Linked DNA regions of Homo sapiens: region 2 is linked to region 1. The links come from fine-mapping of genetic effects on gene expression. Tissue or cell type: whole blood. Region 1 holds a variant in brackets; the other region holds the start of a gene. All regions are shown on one strand. Distances are from middle to middle.

Evidence for each region. PIP is the estimated chance that this variant, and not a neighbour inherited with it, causes the effect.
Region 2: NCOA4 starts here. The variant in region 1 is fine-mapped to the expression of NCOA4 in whole blood (TOPMed, PIP above 0.99).

Annotation. Positions count from the first base shown.
Region 1 is chr10:46,090,319-46,093,002 of GRCh38, forward strand. No RefSeq gene overlaps it. Among named protein-coding and RNA genes, the nearest start is that of MSMB, 45 kb to the left of the region's middle. RefSeq lists a silencer at 1,221-1,515. The variant A/T (reference allele first, on the strand shown) is at 1,430.
Region 2 is chr10:46,029,130-46,031,813 of GRCh38, forward strand. NCOA4 (nuclear receptor coactivator 4) reads right to left here and starts at 1,494. Exons shown (of 10, transcript NM_001145263.2): 1 at 1,397-1,494. LOC105378287 (a long non-coding RNA gene) reads left to right here and starts at 1,646. Exons shown (of 3, transcript XR_945923.4): 1 at 1,646-1,738. RefSeq lists a silencer at 1,020-1,109 and an enhancer at 1,470-1,539.

The sequences.
Region 1 (2,684 bases):
TAATTTCAGCTACCTGGGAGGCTGAGGTGGGAGAATTGCTTGAACCTGGGAGGCAGAGGATGCAGTGAGCCGAGATCATGCCACTGGACTTTAGACAGGGTGACAGAATGAGACTCTGTTTCAAAAAAAAAAAGCGGTAGCAGGAAAGGCCAGCTTGGTATCCTGTGCTGAGCAACCAGACCTGGCCCCACTCAGGGCAAGCATCGGGTGCTCTCCCACCACTAAGGCCAACAGCAGCTGCTTCCAAGTCTGATGCTATCAGGCAACACTCTCAACATCTTCCTCGCTCAGGTGTCCAAAGGGCCCTGGCCAGCCGGACACTGGGCTCAGTGTGCCCGGGAGGGAGCAACTGGGCCTGTGGCCTGCACCCCTTGGTCAGCCCAACTCGGCCACCCTGAGCAGGACTGAGGGCTGCCCCAAAGCTTCATAATCGGGGTGGTTGCAAATTACATTCTAGGCTGTGTTAGGACTACGTATTGCAAACATTTTTTTTTCCCTTTTTTGCAAGGTGGATGGATGAAAAGAGAGAGAGAGAGAGAGATAAAGGAGCATGGGCAAACATTCACTGTAAAATCCCAGTGGTGGATATAGGTGTGTTTGTGTTCATTGCACAATCCTTTCCACTCACCTATAGGTTTGAAAATTTCAACAATAAAGGATGGAAGAAAACCAAATAACTAAAGAAGAAAATTATGCTTAGACATAGACAATCAGAAGTCATGATACATCCTGGGTGACAAGTGACTGATGAGAGGGACAGACCAAGCCCTTGGGCTGCAGGGAGTCAGAGGGGCTGGTCATCAGGGAAGGCTTCCAGGATGAGGTGCCCTATGAACAGGGCTGTGAAGGACAGGTGGGCTCGGCCCTTCAAGGTGAGGCAGGGCTTGCAGGGTGCCTACGCCCCACCTGGTCCCACCTCTGCACAGGGCGCCCAGAACAGGAAGTGGCTCCTGGAGGGCCTGGGGGTTCTGCTAAGAGCCTCAGACACCTGCCAGGCTTAGAAGGGAGGCTCCTGCCAAAACCCTCCAGCCATGTGTGGGGGATGGGCTCAGGACTGGCCTGGAGCAGTGAGCCCAGCAGAGGCCTCTGCCAGGCTGCATATGAGGCCTAGGACTGAATGGGGGAGTCTGGGCTGCGTGCCTCCCTCCCTGGCCTCCTTCCTGGGCTCCCTGGAGCCCTCCTGGTTTCTTGGTGGCAGCCTGCTGAGAGGGCTTATTCTGTTGCATTTAGGTTCCAGGTTCCTGCCTTGGCCTTTCCCTGCTGTGACTGTCACCCTCCATGTGGGGCAGCTTTGCCCAAGTCAGCCAACAGCTGACAGGTCAGGGCTGTGACTGCCGGGCCACGTGAGCAGAGGCAGAGGGCTGAGCTGGTGGGCAGAGGGCACCTGTCACCTCAACTCAGCTGCCACCAGGGAAGAGTGACGACTCAC[A/T]TCCTCACCTGGGGTTGACAGGACTGCTCAGACGCCACAGCCTGTGCATGTCCAGGGGACATCGTCAGAGGAGCACAGCTAGCACACTGGCTGCACGACTGAGCAGCTTTAAACCAGGAGCAGCAGAAAGAGACCCCAAGTGGGAGGGGAGCTCTCTCTACTCCACCCCCATCCTCAGCTCTGCATCGGGGAGAGGTGAGTGGGGTCAGAGCCCAGGACCAATCATGGAAGTGTCAGCACAGCTCCTGTTTCTGGGACCTACCAGCTCCCAGCCCTGTGCCAGTCCCTGCACAGCTCAGTGCCCTGGGACTCACGACAGGCCTGACAGCATCCTTTCTGTTCATGGGAGGCACCTCTGGAGCTCGCTGACATTGGACAATTTGCTCCTGGTCGTGTGCCCATGGAGAGCAGAGCTGACATGGACGGTGTGTCTGTCCTCACAGCCTACTGCCAGGGCACCCTGCAGTGAGGAACTGGGAGGCCAGAACCCAGCTGCTGCTCTGGGCCAGCAGCACCCAGTCTCGTGCTGTCCCCATGGAGGGAGGACACCCAGGGCTCTCTTCCTCTCCAGCAGCCGCATTTGCATAAATGCCGGCCATGCGGAGTCCCAGTGCGCACAGGTGGAGATCAGGACAGACAGGGGTCATCACAGAGGACCACACAAGGCTGTCACCACCCATGCTGGGTACCCAGATGGCATGAGGTCACCCTTAATTCCAGACAGTAGGGACAGATGCTGGGATTGATCTTGTGGGACTGAGGTGAGCCGAGGGTGTTTGTGTGGACACCTTTGTCGGGCTATGGAGGTTTCCTTCTGCTCCCAGGGTGCTGTGGCATGTTGACGCCCCCACTTCTTGTTCTTCATCCTCTGAGATAACCGCTTGGTTCCTGTTTCCCGTTTTGTTGATGTGGTAAATTTCACAGCTATTTCACCTTCTGCACCTGCCTGGCCTTCCTGGGAGGAGCCCTGGCTGCTCCTGCCCTGTGGTCTGGGTTAGCTGCTGCTCCATGCCATTTGCTAGTGTTTTCCTGTGAGCTTCTCACACATGTCTTTTCTTGCTTTAGGGTTAAACTTATTGTTGTGAGGTAACAACACACTAATTGTACACAAGTACTCACACTGCCACCTCTGCATACTCCCCCCACACCAATAGACACTCACATTCACACTCATGTGGGCCACACATCCACACCCACCCACCCATGCACACTGGACCACAAACACACTCAACCCACCCTATACCACACACATCAC
Region 2 (2,684 bases), 61 kb before region 1:
AACATGTTTTTCCATTTCCGAAATGCCTGTTTGCACAAAGGTAATAATGTAATTGTAGAGATTTATTTAGATAAAAACTACCACAAAACTTTCAAAGAGTAGGATTTTCCTTAGAGACCCAAGGACAAAGGCTCCCTGGAAGGCAGGAAAGGAGAAAATGAAAGGAACGTTATTGTGCTGGACTTTACATACATAATCTCATTTACTTATCTGAACAAATCTGCAAGCTAGCAAATCTTCAAATGAGAAAACCAAGTAAATTGCCTAAGCCACTGCATCCTTAGGGTAAGTCTTTCTCAAACGGTCTCAAGTACTTTAAAGTTTGGAAATGTCACACTAGGATCTCGGTATAAAAATGGGCCAACTATGACTTCCTGTGCCATCCTCATTCCAATAAGTAACTCAAGAGTCTCTATAAACTTAGTTCCAAATTACCAAGTGCGTGGTGGAAAGCTAAGTCCATCCAAAAGGCAATTACTGTGGTGAACCCGACCCTGATTAGAAAGTGACACAAAAAGGCACAGTTAAAAGTAAAAAAGCTCTGCCTTTGGGGTCAGATAAATTCAGCACTCTGACTTCTGTCATTCTACTTCTGCCATTCTTGATGGCATCATTCCATGTTAAATCCCGTGCCACGTAAGATTATGATTATTGTTTTCCCCACAACAAGAATTTAGTTCCATGAGAATTAGGTGTCCATTTTTTTCATTGCTATCCTCAACATCCTGAACATACAGGCACCAAATAAATGATTGCTGGTGGAATGAACCAATGAATGAGCAAGCCTTACTCTTCTCAGCTGTAAAACAGAGATAATCAAGCTACTTTTCGGGATTATTGGGAGAATTAAATGTGACAGTATGTGTTTGGCACACAGAGGGCCAAAAAAACCCAATATCTTCTTTGCATTTCCACCTGACAAGCTAGAAATGGATTATGTTCTGTGCCCGTCCGGCAAAACAGACCTCGCCTCGCCCCACATCCAAGCAAGAGGCGAGAGAAACAGGAAACTTGGAGCTGTCACACCTAAAGAGAGGGGAAGGCCGGCGGGGAGCAGGAGGTGTCCGAGCCGGGTGTGAGGAGGGTCGGGGAGGAAAGGACAGGCCCACGGCCGGGCACGAGGAGGGTCGGGGAGGAAAAGACAAGCCCGGGCCCGGCGTGTGGCGGGAAGGCGAGAACGTAGGCCCGGGCCCGGCGTGTGGCCGGAAGGGGAGAAGACAGGCCCGGGCCCGGCGGGCAGGCAGGAAGAGGTGCCCGGGCCTGGCGTGTGGAGGGGAGGGAAGGGAAGGAGAAGGCAGACCGGTCCCGGTGTCGGTCGGGTCGGGAAGGGGCGGACAAGCCCGGGCCCAGCGGGCCAGCGGTCATCGAGCCTCCACCCGGCCCACAGCGTTCTTACCAGGTCCGAGTGCCTCTCCAGGCGATCCGAGGAGACCTTGGGTGGACTGAGACACGGCCCCACACTAACCTACGGCCCAAAGGCAGAGTTCTCGCGACAACACAATCTTCCTCCCACACCTCTCGCCATACGTCTGACAGTCTCGCGAGATCTCCGCTCGGGTCAGCCAGAAGCCCTTGACTGCCCTCTAGGAGGCGCAGAGCGCAGGCGCACACTCCCTCCCCGCCCTTGCAGTGTCCTTTAGTCCTTCGTGAATAAATCGAAATTAAATGAAGCAAATGCTTTTTTGAAGGCAAATTTGGTGCCAAGGACCATCCTAAGTGATTCAGATGGCCTCACAAGGTAGATATTATTTAGTTTGAACATTCAGATGCAAAAATGAATATCGTAAGACACAAAAGGCCATATGTTGTATGATTCCACCTTTGCCACATTTGTTTTTCTAAGGATTGAGTTAATAGGCCGGGAGCAGTGGCTCACGCCTGTAATCCCAGCACGTTGGGGGCCGAGGCGGGCGAATCACGAGGTCGGAAGATGGAGAGCATCCTGGCTAACACGGTGAAACTCCTTCTCTACTAAAAATACAAAAAAATTAGCCAGGCGTGGTGGCTCGCGCGTATAGCCTCAGCTATTCGGGAGGCTGAGGCAGAACTGCCTGAACCTGGGAGGCAGAGGTTGCAGTGAGCCGAGATCGCTCCACTGCACTCCAGCCCGGGCGACAGAGCAAGACTCCGTCTCAAAAAAAAAAAAAAAAAAAATTGAGTAAATAAATAAATGGCAGAACCCAGATTCTTTTTTTCTTTTCTTTTTTCTTTGAGACAGGGTCTGACTCTGTCGCTCAGGCGCAGTGGCGCAATCTCGGCTTGCTGTAACCTCTGCCTCCTGTGTTCAAGCGATTCTCCTGCCTCAACCTGCTGAGTAGCTGGGATTACAGACATGCGCCATGATGCCCGGTTTTTAAATTTTTTTGTAGAGACAGGGTCTTGCTGTGTTACCCAGACTGGTCTCAAAGTCCTGGGCACAAGCGATCCTCCCACCTGATCTAGGATTACAAGCATGAGCCACCACGTCCAGCCTACAGCCCAGATTATAACCCACATTATTTACTTGTGACTAGATGTTAAATAGCACTTCTTTCTGTCTCAGTTTTGACAGAGGTCCTCCATACTCAGTTGCCAACTGCTTCCCCACATTCCGCAGCAAAGGAGGTGATCATAGCAGGGTTTTATGGATCTCATCCAAGAGTGACTCTGCTACAAGGGGCAAGGCAACCTCATTAGAAAACAAT